7 linked regions of the Homo sapiens genome follow. The protein of the gene in region 4 purifies or fractionates together with the protein of the main gene of each other region. This does not show direct contact. Each region holds a gene or a part of one and is shown on either strand. Other genes may lie near its edges. The genes, in order: ACACB, PREPL, TOP3A, METTL2A, NDUFAF5, PC and TKT.

What was found.
Region 1: the proteins of METTL2A (region 4) and ACACB purify together in Homo sapiens (pull-down; one large-scale study listed by IntAct). This does not show direct contact.
Region 2: the proteins of METTL2A (region 4) and PREPL purify together in Homo sapiens (affinity purification with mass spectrometry; one large-scale study listed by BioGRID and IntAct). This does not show direct contact.
Region 3: the proteins of METTL2A (region 4) and TOP3A purify together in Homo sapiens (affinity purification with mass spectrometry; 2 studies listed by BioGRID and IntAct, with this or other methods). This does not show direct contact.
Region 5: the proteins of METTL2A (region 4) and NDUFAF5 purify together in Homo sapiens (affinity purification with mass spectrometry; one large-scale study listed by BioGRID and IntAct). This does not show direct contact.
Region 6: the proteins of METTL2A (region 4) and PC purify together in Homo sapiens (pull-down; one large-scale study listed by IntAct). This does not show direct contact.
Region 7: the proteins of METTL2A (region 4) and TKT purify together in Homo sapiens (pull-down; one large-scale study listed by IntAct). This does not show direct contact.

Annotation. Positions count from the first base shown.
Region 1 is NC_000012.12:109,115,224-109,119,386, reverse strand, and holds the start of ACACB (acetyl-CoA carboxylase 2), read right to left. Parts: upstream 2,801-4,163; 5' UTR 2,683-2,800; intron 734-2,682; exon of another isoform or gene 603-733; intron 1-602. UniProt on the Homo sapiens protein: Mitochondrial enzyme that catalyzes the carboxylation of acetyl-CoA to malonyl-CoA and plays a central role in fatty acid metabolism.
Region 2 is NC_000002.12:44,320,301-44,323,494, forward strand, and holds part of PREPL (prolyl endopeptidase-like), read right to left. Parts: intron 3,112-3,194; coding exon 2,962-3,111; intron 2,555-2,961; coding exon 2,431-2,554; intron 2,138-2,430; exon of another isoform or gene 1,601-2,137; coding exon 1,527-1,600; exon of another isoform or gene 1,146-1,526; coding exon 1,056-1,145; 3' UTR 340-1,055; coding exon of another isoform or gene 1-339. Other genes in the region: amino acid transporter heavy chain SLC3A1, read left to right, coding at 1-339. UniProt on the Homo sapiens protein: Serine peptidase whose precise substrate specificity remains unclear. Does not cleave peptides after a arginine or lysine residue. Regulates trans-Golgi network morphology and sorting by regulating the membrane binding of the AP-1 complex.
Region 3 is NC_000017.11:18,304,995-18,308,494, forward strand, and holds part of TOP3A (DNA topoisomerase 3-alpha), read right to left. Parts: intron 3,431-3,500; coding exon 3,357-3,430; exon of another isoform or gene 3,319-3,356; intron 2,502-3,318; exon of another isoform or gene 2,479-2,501; intron 1,973-2,478; coding exon 1,897-1,972; intron 227-1,896; coding exon 118-226; intron 1-117. UniProt on the Homo sapiens protein: Releases the supercoiling and torsional tension of DNA introduced during the DNA replication and transcription by transiently cleaving and rejoining one strand of the DNA duplex.
Region 4 is NC_000017.11:62,426,897-62,430,396, reverse strand, and holds part of METTL2A (tRNA N(3)-cytidine methyltransferase METTL2A), read right to left. Parts: intron 2,610-3,500; coding exon 2,560-2,609; intron 1-2,559.
Region 5 is NC_000020.11:13,819,054-13,822,080, forward strand, and holds the end of NDUFAF5 (arginine-hydroxylase NDUFAF5, mitochondrial), read left to right. Parts: 3' UTR 1-2,527; downstream 2,528-3,027. UniProt on the Homo sapiens protein: Arginine hydroxylase that mediates hydroxylation of 'Arg-111' of NDUFS7 and is involved in the assembly of mitochondrial NADH:ubiquinone oxidoreductase complex (complex I, MT-ND1) at early stages. May also have methyltransferase activity.
Region 6 is NC_000011.10:66,874,884-66,878,383, forward strand, and holds part of PC (pyruvate carboxylase, mitochondrial precursor), read right to left. Parts: exon of another isoform or gene 3,427-3,500; intron 1-3,426. UniProt on the Homo sapiens protein: Pyruvate carboxylase catalyzes a 2-step reaction, involving the ATP-dependent carboxylation of the covalently attached biotin in the first step and the transfer of the carboxyl group to pyruvate in the second.
Region 7 is NC_000003.12:53,239,023-53,242,522, forward strand, and holds part of TKT (transketolase), read right to left. Parts: intron 3,221-3,500; coding exon 3,103-3,220; intron 2,224-3,102; coding exon 2,110-2,223; intron 1,327-2,109; coding exon 1,229-1,326; intron 1-1,228. UniProt on the Homo sapiens protein: Catalyzes the transfer of a two-carbon ketol group from a ketose donor to an aldose acceptor, via a covalent intermediate with the cofactor thiamine pyrophosphate.

The sequences.
Region 1 (4,163 bases), on a different chromosome or scaffold from region 4:
AACTCCTGACCTCAAGTGATCTAGCTCCTCAGCCTCCCAAAGTGCTGGGATTACAGGCGTGAGCCACTGTGTCTGGCCTGAAGAGACCTTTTCTATGTGTAGTTGTTTTCTGGGGCCCCAGCAAGGGTCAGAGTGGCTAAGGTATGAGCCCAGAGAGCAGGACTTCTGGAGTACAGCAGACTTGGGTGGAGGCTTTGCCATTTGTTATCTGATTGGCCTGAGCCCATCATGGAAATTCTCTGAACCTTGGTTTCCTGGCCTGTGGAATGGAATAAATAAAATCTCCTTCCTAGGATTGTCCTCAAAATTATGTGAGATCCCATAATTATTATGGCATACCTGGGGTATGCCAACTACCCAATAATCAATACCTTGGTTTCTCTGCTGTGCCCAGCCTGGATTCTCTGATACAAGGATCCCTGGATTCCTGGAATAAATGAACACGGTCTATCTTCCTAGAAAATCACCTTACTCTACGGTCATAAATTTACTATTATCACTGCAAACAGAGAGATCTATTAGGATAGGATGTGAAATGTGCATACATTTTTCCGATCAAATGCAATATTTCTAACTCTGTTTCCTGGTTTCCCTGGGTACAGGTGAACTCTACTTTGAAGTAACAAGTCACTGAATCACAAATTCAGAGGAAGCATGAGAACAAGGTATTCCAGGCCGGGTGCAGTGGCTCATGCCCGTAATCCCAGCACTTTGGGAGGCCAAGGTGAGCAGATCACTTGAGGTCAGGAGTTCGAGACCAGCCTGGCCAACATGGCAAAACCCCATCTCTACTAAAAATACAAAAATTAGCTGGGCGTGGTAGTGCTTGCCTGCAATCCCAGCTACTCGGGAGACTGAGACTGAGGAATTGCTTGAACCTGGGAGGCAGGGGTTGCAGTGAGCTGAGATTGTGCCATCGCACTCCAGCCTGGGTGACAGGACGAGACTCTGTCTCAAAAAAAAAAAAAAAAAAAGAACAAGGTCAAAGTTTCTACTGGGATAAGACTTCAAGGAAACCTCCATTTCAAAAGATTAAAATGTTTATTTCCCCATGAAGACTGGGTATCTCATGTAATGTAATACTCAAATTTCTGTCTCAGACCTAAAGGTGTTGAAAGTATGAGCGAGTTTACACAACACCTGAGCAGGAGCAAATAAAACTCTTAAGAGCTTCTGAAAGAAAGTTACAGATTAGAGATATTTTCATCTCTAAATCACATGAATTAGGATTGGCTGGGTCTTTCCACTTAAAACTTGGAGAAGTCATAAAAAGAAATCTTGTAAAGAACTCCATGTCACTATTAGCAGAAACATGCAATTTATAAAATGATATCTTTGGCCAGGCGCGGTGGCTCATGCCTGTAATCCCAGCACTCTGGGAGGCCGAGGCGGGCGGATCACTTGAGGTCAGGAGATCGAGACCATCCTGGCTAACACAGTGAAACCCTGTCTCTACTAAAAATACAAAAAAAATTAGCCGGGCGTGGTAGTGGGTGCCTGTAGTCCCAGCTACTTGGGAGGCTGAGGCAGGAGAATGGCGTGAACCCAGGAGGCGGAGCTTGCAGTGAGCACTCCATCTCAAATAATAATGATAATAATAATATCTTCACCTTTCAGTTTTTAAATTGCAAGTCCCATGTCCCGGGAATTCCCCGGTCCTGGGCAAAGTGGGATGGTTGGTCACCCAACCTATATGGATGCCCATTGATATTAAAAAATAAAAGTAATCACAATAGACATGAGGGAGAGAGTTGTGTACAGTGTGAGTGTACAGAATAAAAGGTCTGGGGGGTTTATACCAAAATGTGCACAGTGGCTACCTGGAGGAGGAGGGTTAGACAGGAATAACAGCAAGGAGACTTTTGCACGGTGCTGAGTGACTTTTTAACTTGCATATTATTTTGGAATGCATTTTTTCAACATTGAAAGAAAGTCATGTCTTCCTAGAAATATAGGATATAGGACCACTACAAACGCTTTACTCTTAGTCTCCTTTTTTTCTTTTTCTTTTCTTTTTTTTTTTTTTTGAGACAGAGTCTTGCTCTGTCAGTCAGGCTGGAATGCAGTGGCGCAATTTTAGCTCACTGCAACCCCCACCTCCTGGGTTCAAGCGATTCTCCTGCCTCAGCCTCCCAAGTAGCTGGGATTACAGGTGCCCATCACCACATCTGGCTAATTTTTATGTGTTTAGTACAGATGGGGTTTCGCCATGTTGGCCAGGCTGGTCTCGAACTCCTGACCTCAAGTGATCCACCTGCCTCTGCCTCCCAAGGTGCTGGGTGGCATGAGCCACCGTGCCCAGCCTTAGTCTGCTTTAAAAAAAAAAAAAAAAAAAAAAAGAACAACCATTTGAGGAAACAGAAACAGAATACTATTCCTTAAGACAGTAGCTTTGGAGGCAAAAAACAGAATTGTTTATAAAACGTTGTGGAACTTATATGGGAGCATGTCCAGGGATCCACACCACCATTTATAGAAGCAAAGAAAGGCCCTTCTCTTTCATCTGCGTTACATTTCGAGCTCTTCTGATTAGCTTCCTTCAAACATGACGGGAGTCGTTTTTCCCCGGGGACCCCAAGTGCATGCCTTCAGACAGGGTCTGCTCTCACTATACATTGGGTTCGAATTTACCTGGACGTTGGCAGAATGGTCCGGACCCCGGGGAGGGGCGAGCTGACTTACCACTTTATTCCTGCCGCTTTTCTCTTGCCATGTCCTCCCCACCGTGCATTCAGGGTTACATTTTCCAGGTTCCTTGTTTGCTGAGGGCCTGAATCTAAGCCTGCTAGCTGCTTACTCTGGGGACTGCAAATGTCACTTTTAGATTAATCAGCCCCTGCTGTTTAAAAATATCCCTGGAGCACTTAACCTTCAAAGCAGCAACAACCCGGGGCAAAGATGAGAAAGATCCCACGTCAAACCACTTGTGCAGCCCTGGCTACTCCTGGGAGAGTTCTGCTATCTGCCTTTTAATCCCATAACTCGCTTTATTTCATAATTCTTAGCTGTTGAAGCCATGAGGCATCTAAAGTCCATGTTGTCGTAAGCAGTAGGCAGAAAGTCATCTGGGCCCTCCTGTGACATGCTGAAAATTAACTGCCTACAGGTGTTGGTCATTTGAGAAACAAGCCCCCATTGAAAACCGTGAATGGGAAGGTGATCGCTATCAGGTCACCTGGCTTCTCTCCCCTGAAAAGATTTGGCGAAACCCTCTCAAATCACGCCACTTAATGGAATGTTTCCAATTTCTTGTGACTTGGGGATAAAAGAAAAAAACAGCTCCATTGCCACATTCTCATTCAGGGTTGACTGGCTCTTGCTAGGGTTGAGCACAGAAGAGGAAATTCAGCACACGCTGCAGTTACATAGTGTTCTGCAACGTGGGGAGGGCTGGCATGTGGGACAAAGGTCGCCTCCAAGGCCCAGCTGGAGAAGCCCAGCCAACTAGGCAGCAGGAAAGTGGAGACCACATAGGAGCACATTGTGCTCAGGCAACAGGGAAGGTGGAACCCACTTCCTGCCAACAATGATGGCCTTACTAAACAGCAAGTGGAGAAACTGGCGAGAGCGCTGAGCACGGGATCTGTGCAAAATGGTTTAAATGGAAATTGCTGCTGGGGCTGGTGCAGCCTGTTCACAGCTACTTTGTTTCTGGGCTTATTTTGCAATAAGGAACAGTCATTGAATATTGGACTTCTTGGGATTTTCTCCACTGGACTTGGAAGCATGTGCTCTGGAAACCTCAGCATTATCAGCTGTAACCCCACAGCACCAGGTACATGTTACAGGAACCGGGGTGAAGGAATGCAGGTCAAATGCCTGCACAATGCCCGGCCCGAGTCATATGTTCTCTAGCCACAGTAGCCCTTGTGATGGCTCTTAGTCTATTTATTAAGACAATAAAAGAGGTGACTCTCAAACAAACCTATGTTTCCAGGGAGAGCCATCTGTGATTCAAGGACATTTTTATAAAATTCCATTGAAAAAAATTCTTAGGCTTCTAACTTCATGAAAAAAAAATTCTTTCCCAGTGATTCCAAATAATCATGATCTAGGCAGGGTGTTGACAGTGGCAGGACTATTAGGCTTTGAAATCAAGCTGATGTGGGTTTGAATCCTCCCTCCATTAGCCATGACTTTGAGCAAATGGCTGAGCTTCAGTG
Region 2 (3,194 bases), on a different chromosome or scaffold from region 4:
AGGAATGACAGCCACTATGTTGTGTACACAAGAGAGCTGGATGGCATCGACAGAATCTTTATCGTGGTTCTGAATTTTGGAGAATCAACACTGTTAAATCTACATAATATGATTTCGGGCCTTCCCGCTAAAATGAGAATAAGGTTAAGTACCAATTCTGCCGACAAAGGCAGTAAAGTTGATACAAGTGGCATTTTTCTGGACAAGGGAGAGGGACTCATCTTTGAACACAACACGAAGAATCTCCTTCATCGCCAAACAGCTTTCAGAGATAGATGCTTTGTTTCCAATCGAGCATGCTATTCCAGTGTACTGAACATACTGTATACCTCGTGTTAGGCACCTTTATGAAGAGATGAAGACACTGGCATTTCAGTGGGATTGTAAGCATTTGTAATAGCTTCATGTACAGCATGCTGCTTGGTGAACAATCATTAATTCTTCGATATTTCTGTAGCTTGAATGTAACTGCTTTAAGAAAGGTTCTCAAATGTTTTGAAAAAAATAAAATGTTTAAAAGTAAATTATGGCTTATAGGAGCTTATAACTTTATTCAGATAGCATCAATCAGGGATGACCAGAACACATTAGGACCCCAGATTATTCAAAAACTTTAACGAATTTTAAGGGGAAGAATTTTATCTTTTCCCTTAAAATGCAGTCATAGAAATTAGAGGATGACTCACTGCCACAGTGTCTAAAAGCATTTGCTAGCAAAGAGGCAGGACACTAATTTGTAAACTGCTCAACTGTTCTGACTGGAAGGGAGGCCTGGAGCTCTGCTATCACCAATCCTTCCCTTCCCTCTACTCCACATCCTTCTAAGGAGCATGATTTGAAAATTACTTTCCTAGGTTAATGGGCATGTGCATCAATGGAGAGAATAGTATAAGCAAGTGAGATGTAGACTAAGCAAAATTTAGATGGAGAAGCACATTTTAAAAAATTAATAACTTAAAAGTCTCAAGTTATTAATTTTTTTTTTGCTAACTCAATTGGAAGTAAGACTATGAAATATTTCAGTGTGTTTCCAATTCCCAGTTGAATGCAGTGTTTCAGAATTTCAGGTATTTCTTAAGATCCTCGAAAACACTGGTGCTGTCAAGTCCAAGTTCCTCGTACAGGAATTTAATTTGGGCTGTAATCTAAAAGAAACACATTAAAAAAATTAAATAGAAGGCCTTTGTAGTAAAATGCCACTGTTTAAGCTTCTCTTTATCTATCCATCTTTACCTAACCGTGAAGTCAGCAATTTATGGCAAGAATACTTTCATTCGAGAGAGAGGCAGAAGGCTTCCAACAATTAAGATTAAATTATTTTCTTTAACAGAGCTCACGTATCAAGTACAAGAGAGAGACATTTCTCTTGATTGACACAGTGTCCCTCCCTCCCCTCCTGGGTCTCACCCATAGATAGGACATTTGTGAAGTGGCTTTGTCATAAACCTGCTGCAACCACTGAAAATGTGAAAACAACATGTATCTAGTTCGGGAATCTGTCCACTGAGAGGGCCTTGATAACATACCTTTTTGTGAGAATCCTCAATTACATGATTGCCTCCAGGCTGAATATCTAGAATAATATTAGGGGTCTGATAGCCTGGAAGAGTTAACATGTAGAACAATTAGAAGATTGTATGGGATCTTCTTTGGAAGATCGAGACCCATTCCTCCCCTCTTCTTTGAGTACTCAGTTCAAATAATAGTAAAGGAATAAAAAGCAAAAACCACCATCATCAACAAAAAGATGGGAGGGGACAAGCAACAGAAGACAAACTTCTGACACAGCGAAAGCAGGAAGAGGCCGTATGGAAAAGACTATATGGTGCCACACGGACAAGGTTGAAACCCAGGAGATCATCAACCTGCCCTGTGGAATCTGAGAGTCTTATGCCCTGGAAACACCAACTACAGCAATGGATGGGGGTGACAAATGGAGATGAATACAGGGAGACTGATATGGCATGTAGTTTCAAGGCAAAAGGGAGGGATTCTTATCTCATAAAGCTGAAACAGCTAGCTAGAGGAAATTCATGCAGCTAAACAGTTTGGGCACTGATGGCCCAAAACAAAAATCTCAGAATCTGTCTTTTAGAGATTCCCAAGAATAACGGCTCAATAAATATTGTTAAATGAATTAATAATTGTATGGCAGTGCATCTCCAAGTTATATCTGATTCTTAAATTTCCTGTTTCCTTTGTGTCCTGCCTATCTATTTTAATACTGTCCTTTGAAAAAGAGGTGAGGCAGTGTATGTATAGACATGTAGTTACGTACACTTTAACTGGGGAGTCAACATAGCAAAATAATTGTTTGCCCTAAATCCTGGGCAGATGATTTGGCTACAGCCTGAAATATATTCCTCTGAGCAGTGTGCTGTGGGTAGTAGTCTGTTTGGCCATGTTCCCTGCTTCTAGGGGGTCTCCTACCTTCACCTGTGTCCTTAGCATGCTCCGCGATGGCTTCCTTGAGTTTCTCAGTATAACTTACAATTCCTTTCAGAGGTACCCGTTCATCGTTTTCATATGCCGTTATGTGAATTGAAGGATAATGCTGAAAGAAAATACATGCACGAAGAGTTTACATTATTTCTTATGGTCCCTTGCCACTATAGAGACTATGAAAAATAATTACCTCCAATTTTTCCCTGTAAGTGCTCTATGCTTTTTCTCACTTGCTATCTTGAGAGCGCCTCAGTATTACAGTAGTAGACTACTTGTTATCTGGAATAGCCTTTTCTTGACTAAAGGACCTTAGCTAATTTAGTAATTAAGGCATGATAAGTCTATTCCCCTGAGGTATTAAACATGGAGCATGAGCAGAGATGGTGCTGAAGATATTTGGGCATCATAAGTAGAAACATCTCTAAAGCTCCTATTTTTGCTTCAGCTTGGATAAGTTTTTTTTTTATTATCTTCTGTGTAAATTCAGGATAATCTAACACAATTGTCTTTCACTACCTGAGGTTTAATATTTTGATAGGGACAGTAACGTTTTATGTAGTTCTTGTGTTTTTCATCAGATGAAGGATTCCCCCATTCTTCTAATTCTTCTAATGTCAGAGGAAGTGTAGTGTCCATCATGGTGTTGAGAACATCCAAGAAAGGTGCCTAAAAAAAAGGCAAAGAAACTTATACTTCAAGTAAGAGGTTGGTAAGTGAGTTTCAGAAAAACATTCTATTTTATGAATATA
Region 3 (3,500 bases), about 44 Mb from region 4:
TGGGAGGGAGAGTACCTGCAGAGGACCTCATCCGTGGCCCATGTGCACATATAAACAAGAACACTCTATTTATGGAGTTCCAAAGTAGAGAAAGTCAGCAGCAGCAGCAGCACTTACCAGCCTTACACACGTGGATAATCTCAAACCCGATGTTTTCGCCTTCTCTATCACAGTCAGTCCAGATCACCAGAGCCTGGCACTGGCGAGTCTCTCGTTCCAAAGTTTTCTTAAGTTCGCAGTGGAATAAGAGTGGTGAGAACAGAATTGCACAACAGTGACTTGACATCTCTAAGCTAAGGGGATCTGACTGAAGGTTAATGCTGCTCTTGGAGTGTGACAACTTGGCAAGGGAAAGAGAACAGAGAAAACTGCTCTCATTGGTGCTAATCATGATACAACCCCTTAGAACCATAAACGAGTTTCTAGAATAGAGGGTTTAATATAACTTCCCCAATATGACAAAACCTGAAATTCAGCTCTAACACACACACACGCGCGCGCGCGCGCGCGCACGCACACTTCGAGAGGTTCTGATTATGACCTAGTTAAAAAAAACGAAGCCGGCTGGGCGTGGTGGCTCACGCCTGTAATCCCAGCACTTTGGGAGGCCGAGGTGGGTGGATCACGAGGTCAGGAGATCGAGACCATCCTGGTTAACACGGTGAAACCCTGTCTCTACTAAAAATACAAAAAATTAGCCGGGCATGGTGGCAGGCACCTGTAGTCCCAGCTACTCGGGAAGCTGAGGCAGGAGAATGGCATGAACCCGGGAGGCGCAGCTTGCAGTGAGTCGAGATCGCACCACTGCAGTCCAGCCTGGGTGACAGAGCAAGACTCCATCTCAAAACAAAACAAAACAAAACAAAACAAAATGAATCCCAATTGAATTTCATCCAAAGTTTTATCAGTTCTCAATAAATTAACTGGCCAGGCTCGGTGGCTCACACCTGTAATCCCAAAACTTTAGGAGGCTGAGGCGGGTGGATCACGTGAGGTCAGGAGTTCGAGACCAGCCTGGCCAACATGGTGAAACCCCATCTCTGTTAAAAATGCACAAATTAGCCGGGTGTGGTGGCAGGCGCCTGTAATCTCAGCTACTTGAGAGGCTAAGGCAAGAGAATCGCTTGAACCTGGAGGCAGAGGTTGCAGTGAGCTGAGATTGCACCATCATACTCCAGCCTGGGGGACAAGAGCGAGACTTCGTCTCAAAAAATAAATAAATAAATAAATAAAAATTAAAAATAAATTAACTATACATGCCCTGACTGCTTGACAACTGGCAATTTACTGTCAAACAGGCATTTATACTTTGTAGCCTCTTTCATCTAACAAGGGGTGAGATGGGGGCTACGCGCTAATAATTTACAATACTTAGGATTATTTTTTGATAGGGTCTCACTTTCTCACCAGGCTGGAGTGTGGTGGTGTGATTACGGCTCACTGCAGCCTCAACCTCCTGCCTCCTGGGATCAAGTAATCCTCCTTCCTCAGCCTTACTAGTAGCTGGGACTATAGGCATACATCACCATGCCTGGTTAAATTTTTTTTTTTTTTTGAGAGATAGGGTCTCACTATGTTGCCCAGGCTGGTCTCAAATTCCTGGAGTTCATGTGATCCTGCCTTGGCCCCACAAATTGCTGGGATTACAGGCATAAACCACCATGTCCAGCCTTTATTCCTAGGATTTAAACAACTACCATTCATAAAAAAAGTTTACTTCAGTCCCTTGGCCACTTAGCCACATTTATACAATGGGTGGGAACCAGCTTTTTAAATCATGGTAGTGACTTTGGTGGAAAACCTTATCTCCAAATGCCAATGCATTAAAAACAAAGAAATCACTCTGTTTGACTCTGTGGTTTGACTCAGTGCCATATGTCTTCCAAAAGACCCTACCTTGATGTCTACAAAATTCTCTGGGCAGTACTTTTCAATTTCTGCTTCAAAGAGGACAAGAGGGTTGCAGCTCTGCCTAGAAAAGAAATGAAAACAGAGTCCCAACTCAGTACATGACAGAGAGCCCTCCAATCTAATGACAGCAAACTGTTCCAATGGGTTCATGGTGTATCCCCAAAAGAAAAGGTCCCGGTGAATTGAAAGTAAGGCTATGACCCTCTGCATGACACACTGTCCACTTCTCCAAGAGTGTGAACAGGACTGATAAGATGGCATTCTGGAGCCCTTTCACAGGTAAATGCAATCCAATGGCTGCATGAAAAAGGTCTGGCAATTTTGAGGAACACCAAAAGTGACTGTTTAAAGATTTAATAAAAATTCACAATGGATCAGATAATCCTAGGTCATCTTAGTATTATAAATTACTGCTGGGCGTGGTAGCTCACGCCTGTAATCCCAGCACGTTGGGAGGCCAAGGTGGGTGGATCACGAGGTCAGGAGATCGAGACTAGCCTGGCTAACACGGTGAAACCCCGTCTCTACTAAAAATACGAAAAATTAGCCAAGCGTGGTGGCAGGCACCTGTAGTCCCAGCTACTCGGGAGTCTGAGGCAGGAGAATCGCTTGAACCCGGGAGGTGGAGGTTACAATGAGTCAAGATTGTGCCACTGCACTCCAGCCTAGGCGACAGAATAAAACTCCGTCTCAAAAAATAAATAAAATAAATAAATAAATAAATAAATTACCAAGGCACAGTGGCTCACGCCTGTAATCCTAGCACTTTGGGAGGCAAAAGAAGGCAAACCCTGCTTTGTTTAAGACCAGCCTGGGCAACAGGGTGAAACTCCATCTCTACTAAAATAGAAAAAATTAGCTGGGTGTAGTGGCACATGGCTGTAAGGCCAGTTACTTGGGAAACTGAGGCATGAGAATCGCTTGAACCCAGGAGGCGGAGGTTGCAGTGAGACGAGATTGCGCCACTGCACTCCAGCCTGGGTAACGCAGCGAGACCCTGACTCAAAAAAAAAAAAAAAAAAAAACCGGGCATGGTGGCTCACGGTCTGTAATCCCAGCACTTCAGGAGGCTGAGGTGGGCAGACCACCTGAGGTCAGGAGTTCGAGACCAGCCTGGTCAACATGGTGAAACCCTGTCTCTACTAAAAATACAAAAACTAGCCAGGTGTGGTGGCACGTGCCTATAGTCCCAGCTACTCGGGAGGGTGAGGCAGGAGAATCACTCGAACCCAGGAGGCAGAGGTTGCTGTGAGCCGAGATCACACCACTGCACTCCAGCCTGGGAGACAGAGTCTCACTCTGAAACTTTGTCTCCAACAAAAAAAAAAAAAAAAAAAAAAAAAAAAAAAAAAAATTACCCAGTAAGATCAACATGCCTCAAAATTCCTGTGAAATTTCACAACTTACTATAATCTGAAAGTCCTTCCCTTGAGAATTGTACTGACCATTTTCGAAACTGCATCTGGAAATCATGAGCCAGTAAATGTCCAGAAACTGAAGTCATTACCATGGTAACATTCTGAATGATGACAAAATTCAAAATTCAGTTAGTCTTTTTGCAGTTATTATTCTGCCAAATCATTAAAATG
Region 4 (3,500 bases):
TTCTAGCAAGATATTGAACACAGCGATCTTATTTAAATGGCATAAAGAGGCTGTGGCAAAGATGCCATCTACATTATTTTACATGCATTGATGATATTGATAATTAATGGCCATAACTTGAAGCTAAGTCAATCTCCCATTTGAGGTGGGTTCCTCAGACTGTAACTTCAAGAGCAGAACAATCTCTTTTCTTCAGTGTTAGCTACTAGGACTTGCCATTTTCTTAGAAATTTCTGAGAACAAATTGTAGAAATATTTAAGTGTATATTAGTAATGAGGCTAATGTTTTACTTAATCCTGTTAATGAATACTGTGGGCTAAATTGGCAAAGTATATATTATATGAAACCTTTGAGAAACAGTGGATTCCAGTAATGCATACAGAACTGGAATGTCATTTCCACAAGGGGTTTAAAAACAGCTATAGGGCCGGGAGCCATGGCTCACGCCTGTAATCCCAGCACTTTGGGAGGCTGAGGTGGGTGGATCACTTGAGGTCAGGAGTTCGAGACCAGCCTAGCCAACATGGCAAAACCCCATCTCTACTAAAAATACAAAAATTAGCTGGGCATTGTGGCGCATGCCTGTAATCCCAGGTATTTGGGAGGCTGAGGCAGGAGAATCGCTTGAACCCAGGAGGCAGAGGTTGCAGTGAGCCAAGATTACGCCACTGCACTCCAGCCTGGGCAACAGAGCAAGACTCCATCTCAAACAAAACAAAACAGATATGGTATAATAAATATATCTGGTGTTGGTCTTTGTGGTTCCAGGCACAGAGTTCCAAAAACCTTAAGAATTTCCTCAGCAGGCTGGGCGCGGTGGCTCACACATATAATCCCAGCACTTTGGGAGGCCGAGGCAGGTGGATCACCTGAGGTCAGGAGTCTGAGACCAGCCTGGCCAATGTGGTGAAACCCTGTCTCTACTAAAAATATAAAAATTAGTTGTGTGTGGTGGCATGCACCCTTAATCCCAGCTACTAGGGAGGCTGAGGCAGGTGAATCACTTGAACCCGGAAGGCGGAGGTTGCAATGAGTCGAGATTGTGCCACTGCACTCCAACCTGGGTGATGAAGCAAGACTCTGTATCTTTTGTTATTCATAATGAACTCCCTCAGGACCACACTGAATTTAATGAGATGACCTGGGGTGGGGCCAACACTAGTAAGGGCAAACCGATTGGAACTTTCAGCTTCACCCACCAATGTCCTGAATAGAAATGCAGATTATGTTGTATGAAAACTATTTTCTTCTTCTCCTTTTAAAATTAATTTTCCCATGAGTCTGTGTCCTAGCTGTATAAAAACTCTTGAGGCTGGGAACGGTGACTTATGCATGTAATTCCAGCACTTTGGGAGGCCGAGGCAAGAGGATCACTTGAGCCCAGGAGTTTGAGACCAGTCTGGGCAACAAAGTGAGACCCTGTCTCTACAAAAAATAAACAAAAATTAGCTGGGTATGGTGGCATGTGTCTGTAGTCCCAGCTACTTGGGAGGCTGAGGTGAGAGGATTGCTTGAGCCTAGGAGTTTGAGCCTGCAGTGTGCTATGGGCGCACCACTGTGCGCTAGTCGGGATGACAGAACAAGAGCTTGTCTCAAAACTAAAAAAAACCCCTTGATGAGCTTCCAGGTTGGTGAACACATCCGTGTGCTAGGAGGACACTGCACTGAGCTCCTCAGGGTCAAAGCTCCTGAGCGTGAGATCCTCTGAACCCCACTCTAATTACTTCTTCAGCTGGCTGTTAATCTGTATCCTTCATAACAAACACATAAATGTAAGTAAAGTGTTTCCCTGAGTTCTGTGAGCCATTCTAGGAAATTATTGAACTGGAGATAGGGCTACCCTGATTTACAGCCTGTAGGGCAGAAACACGGAGGGCCAGATTCACAACTGGCATCTGAAGTGGGGGGCAGTCTTCTGGGACCGAACCCTTAACTTGTGGGATCTGACACCAACTCCAAGTAGACAGTGTCAGAATTGAATTGTAGGACACCCAGCTGTTTTTGAATTGGTCAGTGTTGGCAAAAACCCCGCACATTTGGTGTCAGAAGCGTTCTGTTTAAGTACACAAAACCAGTGTGTTTTCATCAGAACAGGAGACATCTTCATGTATGTTAGCTTTCTCAACTCTACCATGGGGGTGATGACAACTCAGCCACTGACTGTTCTTCAGAGATCATGAGAATGGAAAAGTTGAACACATTTGTTCCTTAGAAGAAGAAGAAGGCGCTAAATGTTAACACTAGCAAGTTTTAAGTCTAATTTTCCAAATGACAAAGATAATCAAATTAAAACAATCCATAAATGAACAATGTAGAAATCTGAATCTGACATAATCCATATTTTCCAATAACCATTACTGATAGTTTGATGCAGCAAGTTTTGAAAAAACCTTTACTTTTTTTTCTTGCTACATTGCCCTGGCTGGTCTCACACTCCTGGCCTCAAGCAATCCTGCTTTGGCCTCCCAAAGTGCTGGGATTACTGTCGTGAAGCAATGCGCCCAGCCAACCTTCACTTTTATCTTCTTTGCTATCATAAACTTTTACAACATACTTACTTGTTCGTTTGTAAAATTGGAAAGACTGTGTTTCCCACACCACAGCCAACCTGCAGACAGAAATGAACTATTAATCACAGAACTTTCCAGAGTTAATTCCCTAAAGCTAGAAAAGCTAGAAAAATAATAATCAACAAGAATCTGGCCTAACTGTATTAGGGAAGGTGTAGTGACCAGAGCTAAACAGTACTCATGACATTTGTTGATTTTGATGTTGACTTCAGGAACCCTTAAAAGACAAGAGCACGGGTTTTTATTAGCAGAAACGAGGTGGTCTAGAAAAAAGGGCAAGGATTGCTTTTATCTTTTGAGTTCTAGCAAATGGTCCTGTAGATGAAGTATTTTCTTACTGAGCTTATATTATTATTGTGAAAATATTTGTAATAGACTGTGCTGAAAAATGTATGAAAAGGGGACCCTGACAACCTTGTCCTAAACACAGTGCTGCGTGGTAATGAAGACAGCAACTATTTATTAAGGGCTTAACTATGTGCCAGATACTGTTCTTAGCCCTTTTACATACATTATCTCCATCCTCATAACTATAAAGTGCAGAGGCAGCAGTCTCACTGCTCAGAGAGGGTAAGGAAATTGTCTAAGATCACACCATAGGACTCAATCCCAAGGCTGACCAGTTCCAGAACCAGCTTCCAGTAACGTGCGCAGTCCCCATTTATGAATTTACATTATACCAATCTAGACATTTTTCCAGGTCTAGACTCTGCAACACCATCCAAATGCAGAGGAAGAGAATTATCCCAGGCCTAAGAAACAGGCACCATCCTAACTACCCTCTCCATTCCTGTAACTGTATTAGAAGAGAAGCAACAATTTCTTCTGATCTGGGACTTTTTTCCAGAGTTATAGCATGATCATGTTGAGCTCCTTCACCTGTATGATGCAGTGGCATGTGACAGGTACAGCATGATGCCATTAATACA
Region 5 (3,027 bases), on a different chromosome or scaffold from region 4:
AAACACAGCTAATTGAGGACCCTTATTGTTTAATGTGAGTGATTGTAGTGAAAACACTTATTTTAGTGTGTATAACACTAGTGAAATTATTTTTGTAGTTAAATCTGCTGGAAGTGTGCTATTAAGCTTTTATTGTTTGGAGCCCTCAGGAAACTAATTTTTCTGAATAACCACATTTTCCAAATGATTAAGAGCTCATCCTTTTAAGCAATGAAACTTTTAAAAGGTCTTTATCAAAAATTTTTCATAAATGTTACATTCTTAAATGGTATATGATAAATAATCATCTTTTTTGTTGGTTTATTTTTTTATTTTTTATTTTATTTTATTTTTTGAGACGGAGTCTCGCTCTGTCTCCAGGCTGGAGTACAGTGGCGCAATCTCGGCTCACTGCTGCCTCCGCTTCCTGGGTTCAAGTGATTCTTCCTGCCTCAGCTTCCCAAGTAGCTGGGATTACAGGCGCGTGCCACCACGCTGGCTAATTTTTGTATTTTTAATAGAGATGGGGTTTCACCATGTTGGCCAGGATGGTCTCAATCTCTTGACCTTGTGATCTGCCCACCTTGGCTTCCCAAAGTGCTGAGATTACAGGTGTGAGCCACCAGGCCTGGCCAATAACCATTTCTTGATAACCCCACAGATAATATCATAAACTCAAGTTGTCTGTATTGCTTCTTCCCAGACTGGTCCCAAGAATGCTGTGGTTGGTTTTGTGTCTTTTCCAGCACTTTTCTTACTTGCTGTCAGTTGTCAATCTCAACACCTTGACCAAAATGAACTTTCTTGAGTCATTTCTTCTCTGTTTAGCTATAAGATTAGAATTCATACTGAAAGATTTCTAGGACTTTTGTATTAAGGTAGGAAAGAGGAACTAGGTTCTGGGAGAAAGACTCCTTTGGAATAAAATTCATGAGCTTTATTGGTTCCTTTAACAGATCTTCATTGAGTTTCATGTGCCAGGCATCCAACTAGTCTCTGCTTTTATAGTTGTCAGTCTGACAGGGCTCTAGTATGTGCACACCGTGACACCTGTTGGCTGCCAGGAGACTGTTTGGCTTATTTCCTGGTTCTTAGCAATATTCCAGGTTGGCCTGGAGAATTCCAAAGGTAAATATGAAAATGTATACCTACAAAAGAATTTTTGCTTTATAGGAAGAATTTGTAGGATTTATTGAGATGTAAGCTACCTATATACATCAAGTATGTGATATGATTGTAAAAAGTTACAGAAGTGTGTGAGTCATGAAGTACCTGTGAGGGAAGTTTATATATTTTTTCAAACTCTTTTAGTACCATTTTCATCCACTAGGTGGAAGCAATTACAGTATGACCTGCATTAAAGACATGTACAGTTTTTTGGCCGGCTGCAGTGGCTCACACCTGTGATCTCAACACTTTGGGAAGCTGAGACGGGAGGATTGCTTGAGCCCAGGAGTTTGAGACCAGCTTGGGCAACGTGATGAAACCCTGTCTCTACAAATAAAAAAAAAATTAGCCAGGCATGGTGGCACAAGCCTGTGGTCCCAGCTACTCAGAAGGCTGAGGTGGGAGTATTGATCGAGCCCAGGAGGTCAAGGCTGCAGCAAGCTGTCGCACCACTGCACTCTAGCCTGGGCAACAGCAAGACCCTCGTCTCAAAAAAGAAAAAAAAAAAGTACAATTTTTGTATTGATTATGTATTCCTTAAGTAGGAGTGGAATAAAAGTATTTTACCGTGGATTGGCTTCTGTGAAGGAAAGAAGTGAATATTAGTAGATATTTGGAAAAAAGAAAGATAGTTGATGCAGTGATTATTATTCTGTTCCTTTGTAAGTTACCATTAGCCTCTCTTGCTTAAGAAATATTTTGAGCTTTTTTGGGGAGGGGTTGTGGTTAATGATGTGAAATTAATCTTCAGGAAATTTATCATAAGCAGACTTGCCTTTTCAGATATTGGTATATTTTAATTCTCTACCTGAATACATACATGACAGTTATTTTACCATGCTGGTTTAAAAAACATCAATTTGAAAATACTAGAAGGTGGGGTGAACACTGATAAGTTACTGTTAACAAATAAGAAAATAATGCTTTGCCATCTGTGGTGGTTTTAAAATCTATCCACAAATTTTTGATATGCTTCTCTTTAAGACGGGACACTTCATTCCCCTCTAAGTACAGGCTGAGTTTAGTGATTCCCTTCCAACAAATAGATGGTGTGTCACTTCTGAGACTAGGTAATAAAAGGCATTGCATCCTCCTTACTCTCTCTTGGATCCTTCACTCTAGGGAAAGCCAGCAGCCATATTGTAAGGCCACTCAACTCCATGGAGAAGACCTAGAAGTGAGGAGCAGAGGCCTCCAGCCAAAAGCCATGTGAGGGAGCCATCTTGGAAGCAATTCTCCAGGCCCAAACTTCAGATGACTGTGGTCCCAGCCAATGCATTGACCACAACCTCATGAGAGACCCTGAGCTAGAACCACCTAGCTAAGCCACTCTCAAATATCTTATCTACAGAAACTGAGATGATAAATGTTTGTGGTTTAAGCAACTGTGTTTTAGAGTAATTTGTTACACAGCAATAGATAACTGATACGCGATACACTGTCTTCAGGAGGTGTATTAGGGTGGGCAAGGTATTCTGAGTTGTTATTTTCAGCATAAAACATAGCCCCCTTATTTACAATTAGGTAAAGTTAACATAAACTGTATTACTTTTGTTCTCAGAGAACACCAGACCTGAAATGCTCTTGCCTGGAGGTTTGATTCCATGATATCTTGAAATGGAACTAACTTCCCACATTAAGTTTAGTAGGCCTCAAATTTTCTTTCCTGGGAATATTAGGATAAATTTTTTGGAAGCCTCGATGGGCTAATTTCCAAATGAAATCAGAGAATTTGGGAAGACCATGAGAATTCAGTGAGCTACATAACTGCACACAGATTCTTCAGCCAGTTCCCTTCTGCCGTAGCTGTTGAGTTGCGACAGCTCATTAGGATGGACTGTTGACACTGCATACTTGTTACCAGGCTCACAAATGAGTACA
Region 6 (3,500 bases), on a different chromosome or scaffold from region 4:
GAGGAGGGGACACAGAAGCTGGGACCTGGATGGGGAGAAGTCGGCCACGCACAGATCCGCAGAGAAAGCTCCAGGAAGAAGGGATAGCAATTGTGAAGTTCTCAGGAAGAACAGGCTTGGTGCTGTCCTGAGAGAGGGAAGTGTGAGCCCACGGCCTGAGGTGGGGCTGCAGCCACAGACAGGGCCCAGTGGTTGAGGCCTCCCTTCAGCCATGGACAGGACAGGAGGGACATGATCGATGCACAGTGGAAAGGATCTCTCTGGACTGGCGAGCAGCAGGGGCTGACAGACGACGCATGTCTGGGGCAATTCAGAGGCTGAGCTGAGAGACGCGGAGCCTCTGACAGGGGGAAGCTATGGGGGTCGGGGTGGGGCTTAGGAAACATCTGGGCTATGACAGACAAGATTCGTCGAGAGACCCCCCATAGAAAGCAAGGTAGAGGAAGAAATCCTGTATGGGTGGGTGGAGATGACTTTTCCTGCTATAAGAAGGGCAAGACAGAAAAGGCAGGGCTGGGAGTGAGGCAAGCTCACAGAGGGGGAAGAGCAGGGACAAGAACCTGGGCAGCATCACAGGGGCGGTGGTGTCTGAAGCCAGGGAGAGAACAGCCTGGGAGAAGTGGGTCAGGCCTGCGTCTTCAGGCCCACTGGAGTTGAGTCTGGCCGAGGAGGAAGAGCCAAGAAGGAGCCCAGGGGGGATGCCTGGAGGAGGGAGGGACGCACGGGTCGCTGGGCAGAAGCGAGCGGCTCTCAGGAGGATGGGGCGCGAGTTGGGCAGAGCATGACTCCCAGAGGCAGGGTAAGATGGGGGCTGGGAAGGGGCCACTGCGGTGACCAGGAGGCACCCAGGTCACACCCGGCTATGGTGAACGTGGGTAGAGTAACCTTGCTGGACTCTGGGCTCCTCCTCTTTCTAAAATATACCTTGTCCTTATTCATTGCACAGTGGAGAAACCTGGCGGACACCACGCTGACCGAGAGATGAAGGTTAATATCACTAGCACCGAAGGGATACCACACACCTCCTGATGGGGTTCCCGCTGCCGTGCACGGCCTGAATTTAATCAGGAGAAAGCAAGGGGCAAACTCAAATTCAGGGAAATTCCACAGAATAACTGGCTTGGACTCTTCAAACATGTCAAAGGTCGTGAGAGACAAAGACGCAAGAACGGTTTCAGATGAAAGGAGACCAAAGCAACAATGGTGAGAGCCACACACGATCCTGGATTGGATCCGGGTTTCTATTGCTAAGAGGACATCAGGGGACAACGATACAATTTAAATAAGGTCTGCAGGTTTGAAAGAGGATTGCGTTGATATCAATTTCCTGATCTTGATCAGTGGACTGTGGTTATGTTAGAGAACAGCCTCATTCTTAGGGAAAAACACTGAGGAACTCAAGGGTCCACGAGCACCACATCTGCAATTTACACCCACTCACATGGTTCAGGGAAAAACGGGAACAATGAAGCAAATGCTAGTATTGGGGGAACTGGGGTCAGGGGTACGAGAATTCTTTGTCTTACTCTTGCAACTTTACTGAAAGTCTGAAATCATTTCAAATTGACAAGTGAAAAGAACCATACCCACCGCTAATGCCGCTGGAGGAGATAACCTTAGGGAGTGCATGCCCCAGCACCTGCTGCTCAAGAGGTGCCGGGAGCACCAGCGAGGAGCTCAGGTGTGGAGACACCCTGCTCAGAGCAGGATGAACGTCAGACGTTATCACCCTGCTATCTCCCACATGCAGATCTACAATCCTCTAAGCCCTGCTCCAGGCGAGTTATCGGATGCTGCCCACTAGGAGGACAGGTCTTTCCCAGCTGGGAGCAGGCGGCACTGGCATCAGAGAGCAGGTGTGGGGTGTAAATCTCACCCTCCTCCTGGGCACCAAATGTCTACTCTGCTGAGCGCTGGGAAAGGCCATGTCAAAAGAGCTCAAGTTACCACATAGGGCAAAGTCAGGAAGAGGCGAGGGGAGCCTTCGGGACAAGCACAGCAACAAGACAGCAAACACAAGTGGCTCTTGAACCCACGAGAAAGCAAGAGATTCAAAATACAACCATGAGGTGCCACTCCTGCCTGGGAGCTTTGTAAATGCAGTGCTGAGCGCCAGGAAGGCCTTCAGGAGGCGGCCCGCAGGCACTGCTGAGCATCACGGCAGCTTCTCCGGGAAGCTGTTTGCAAAACTTATCAAGAGCCTTTAAGGTATTTATGCCCGGCCAGGCGCGGTGGCTCACGCCTGTAATCCCAGCACTTTGGGACGCTGAGACAGGCGGATCATTTGAGGTCACGAATTCAAAACCACCCTGGCCAACATGGTGAATCCCCGTCTCTACTAAAAGTACAAAAATTAGCCCAGCATGATAGTGGGCGCCTATAGTCCCAGCTACTCGGGAGGCTGAGGCAGGAGAGTTGCTTGAGCCTGTGAGGCGGAAGTTGCAGTGAGCCGAGATCGCGCCATTGCATTCCAGCCTGGGTGATAGAGCGAGACTCCATCTCAAAAACAAAACAAAACAAAAAAAGCCGGGCACAGTGGCTGACGCCTGTAATCCCAACACTTTGGGAGGCCAGGGCGGGTGCATCACGAGGTCAGGAGATGGAGACCATCCTGGCTAACACGGTGAAACCCCATCTCTACTAAAAAATACAAAAAAATTAGCTAGGCATGGTGGCGGGTTATGCCCCTGAGCCCAGTCATTACTATTCCAGAAATCCAACCCCAGGAAATATTCCAAAATGGGAACCAAGATGTACGCAGAAAGATGTTCAAAGCAGCATTATTTACAACAGAAAATCATGAGAAGCAATTTAAAGATTCCACACCCTGGCTCCCACAGACATTATGTAACCATTAACAATAATGTGTTTGCACAGGTTTTGATGACATGGGAAATGCTTGTGATGTAATGTGAAGCCAAGAAAATTTAATGGTAAACAACATGATCTCATGAAGTTTTTTTAAAGGAATGGCAACAACTGTAGGACTGCTTGCATGCCACCCTCCTCACTCCCACGTGCTATGGAATTGCTGTAGAGTTGTGTTTTCCTCCTTCTTTATGCTTTTCTATATTTCCATATGGAAAATTTCCATATTTTCTCCATTGGGGATGCGTTATTTATAATTAGAAAAAAAAGAAGAAATATACAGAAGGGACAGGAAGAGCTCCGCAGGAAAAGGCGAAGGGAGCTCCTGCTACACCGACTCCTTGGGTGGGAGGACTTGGCTATGTGTCTCCCAGGAGCCTAGCACCCTCCCCCTCCTCACCTGCTGGCCTGCCTATAGGTGAGCAGCCTCACAGCTGGCAGCAGCCCACTGGCACCGAGATTCTCAAACCTCCAGGGCAGTTTCAAGCTTTTTCCAGGGAGCCCCAGTCCTTTCCTCCCACCTGGGTGGGTTTACCCTGCGACCACAGGGGCACTTACCCGTGGTTTGTGGGTAAACAGGTCATTTTTGTTGCTCTCCTCCCCTGTCCACACCACACTCACTCCCCACTGCC
Region 7 (3,500 bases), on a different chromosome or scaffold from region 4:
AATCATGGGGACAGGTCTTCCCCATGCTGTTCTCGTGATGGTGAATAAGTCTCACAAGATCTGATGGTTTTAAAAACGGGAGTTTCCCTGCACAAACTCTCTCTTTGCCTGCGCCTTCCACATAAGATGTGACTTGTTCCTCCTTACCTTCCAGCATGACTGTGAGGCCTCCCTAGCCATGTGGAACTGTAAGTCCATTAGACCTCTTTTTCTTCCCCAGACTTGGGTATGCCTTTATCAGCAGTGTGGAAACAGACTAATACAGTGATTATTCTTTAAAAAAAAGAATAATTTTTTTTTTAAAGAGGCAGAGTCTCGCTCTGTAGCCCAGGCTAGGGTGCAGTGGCTCAATCATGTATAGCTATAATCTTGAAGCCCTAGGCTCAAGTGATCCTCCCACCTCAGCCTCCTATGTAGCTGGGACTACAGGTGTGTACCACCATGCCTGGCTAAGTTTTGTATTTTTTGTAGAGAGAGTCTTGCTCTGTTGCCTAGGCTGGTCTGGAACTCCTGGCCTCAAGCAATCCTTCCCTCAGCCAGCCATTATTCTTAACAGTTTACAACCTCATCCCCCCAGGCCATATCTGACCACCGCAGACAAACTTATGGCTAGAACCTTCCTGGGGGGCCGTTCCTACAAATCACCTGGTGGGCGCTAGAGCAGCACACCTTTCTGGTCAGGCTCATCACCCACCCTCTGAAGGCTCAATCTCTCAAATGTTTGTTTCTTCCCTGCTGATAGGAGGTGGCTTACAGGTATCCCAGAACCCCTCAGAACATACAACCCTCCCCTTTACCAAGATAAAGGCAAGTGGCTCAGGCCTGGGCTCCTGGTGCCTAGTCAGACAGGGGCCTGGGGGTGGGTCTTTCTGAGACTTCTGGGGTCTGGGCACAGGGCTGGGGGCAAAACAGGAAGTCCTCAGCCTAAGCACTCTGGCTGAAGAGCACATGATTGAGAGCACGCACTCTGTGCAAACCTGGCCCTGCCAGTCACTGCTGAGGGACCCAGGGCAGGTCCCTTAACTCCTGAGTGTTTCCTCATTTGTAAAGGGGGCCGGTCATGGCACCAGCCATAGCGGATGTTTAAAGAGCAAAAGAGGCCACGCATATGTATTACTCTGCCCTAGCCAGGAAAGAGGAAGAGTCTGGGGGCGATGGTGAAGGGTGGGTCACCCAAGGACCACTCCCCAAAACTACCCAGGTTGGGGGTGGGGAGTAGGTGTGTTACCTGGCCTTGTCGAAGTATTTGCCGGTGTAGGCCATCCCACAAGCGGCCCCGAGGCCCTGGCCCAGGGAGCCAGTGGCCACGTCGGTGAAAGCTTGTTTCTGTCATAACAGAAGGCCACCGTTAATCTGAGAGGAGAAGGGATCCTGGTCTCACCCGCCTAGGGAGCCACACTCCCACCCAGCCCAGCAAGCCCTTCCTCTGCAGAAGGTCAGGCCCCAGGATGGCCTCTACCTAGCATGTGACTTCTTCTCCTAATGAACTAATTATAATTATAGGTTCAAATCCCAGCCCTGCCCACTAGCCAGCTATGTGGCCTCAGGCCTCAGGCAAGGGACTGAACCTCTGTGAGCCTCAGTTCCCACATCACCCACTTCACAAAGTGCTGGGAGAGAGAATCATGAAAAAATTGACAGAACATTTGCCCCTCGTGGGGACCCAGACCATGTGACAGTTTTTGTGGTAATCCATGAAGTCTTAACGTTTGCAGGGATGCCAGATGGCACCCCAAGGAACAAACTGGGTCCCTTCCCCAGGGTTTCGCCAGCATCCTGCAGCCACTCCCTTATCGAGTCCCCTCTCTTCCCAAGCTGTAGCTACCTAGCCAAGGAGGCCCAGTGCAGAAGGGTAGCTTGGGGAGAGGCCCTCCCTGAAGTCATCCCAGAGCACCCTGGCTGAGGCCTCAGAAGGCCTTCCCCTTTGGCACCAGCTTGGGTTGAATACGTGTCCCCAAAACACCTGCTTCTTTCCTTCCTCAACTCAATGCCCTCCTCCGCCTTTCAACACCTTTGGCTTCTCAGTGGGCACCCCCTACCCCCGTCCCACATGTCTGGGAAATAGGAAGTGGAGGCAGAGGCATGGGAGGCTCTGGCAGGAGCACTTACCGGGACCGGGTGCCCGTCCAAGTCGGAGCTGATCTTCCTCAGGTTCAGCAGCTCCGCCTCGGCCAGGAAACCAGCTTCAGCCCAGACCGCGTAGAGGATGGGAGCTGCATGGCCCTGCCGGGAGATGGATGGTGGGGTGAGGTCAGGTGGGGAGCGGTTCTACTTCGGGCTGTGCCTACTTCACACTGACCCCTGGGGCCCGGCCGAGCCGGCCAACTGCAGCATCCATTTCAGGGGAGGAAGCAAGTGAAGGCCACTTCTCCCCTTTCAGCCCTCTTCAGCCTCTTGGTTTTCAGCCCAAAGTTCCCACTGCCAAGGCCAGGCAGGCACTAAGACAGGTGCAGGGGGCACAGCTGTGAGGCTGGACGAAGCCAAAACCCCAGCAGGCAGCCGGCTGCCCTAATCCCTGGTTTGTGGCATGGGAACAACTTGGACAGACTTCTAAGCTCTAAAGCCTGCCCGAGAGACCAAACGCCACGGAGGCAGGCCTGAGCACAGGTGGATTTCAGGGATCTGTGGCTGTGATTCCACCCAGAAGGGGGGGGTCAGGGGGTCCCCATCCAAAACCCTGCTACAGCACACCACCACCCCGAGGGGGCAAGCCGTGGCCTCGGGAGCGCTGGCACAACACAGATAGAGCAGGTAGGGAGCCACAACCCAGACCGAGATGCCAGTCCTGCCTGTCAACACCCAGACTGGGCAGAACACACAACAGATGTTTCCGTAGTCCCCTACTCCATTTCTTTGAGTTAAAGCGTTGTTTATGTACCTGGGCTCCATGGCAGAGCAACCCATCAATTCAGTCCTGTATTCCTTAGCCAGCTGGGTCAGCACAGAGCAGGACACTGAGGGAGAGGCCAGGACGAGCAGGGAGAAGGCACCTGGGAGAGGTGGGCCCAGCCAGGTCTCCTCAAAGACCACTCACCATTCCAGGGCCCGTGTGACCCTAGTCCCAGGCAAGGTGTGGCTGGCAGTGGGCAGCTGGGCTCTTACCTTGGAGAGCACAAAGCGGTCATTGTGCGGATTCCGGGGGTCCTGGGACTTGTAGCGCATGGTGTGGAAAAAGAGGACAGCCATGATCTCTGCGGCGCTGCAGCATGACGTGGGGTGGCTGTGGCCCAGGAGAGAAGACAGACACAGGCATCATGGCCCTGCACTCCTGAGCTATTGTGCTCAGCTGTACAGGGACCTGGGGGTGCATGTCCTGAGGAGTCACACAGGCCTGGCTTATCAGACAGCCACGAGCTCTTGTTCCCTGGGAGGGTGACACATGGTCTCAAGAAGGCCACTCCTGGCAGTTTGGGGCCTGGGCCAGCTAGTGGGTGCTGGGGACTGTTGTACCTTTCCAGGGGCATCAGATCCTCAGAATCACGGCAACTGAAAATATCTGG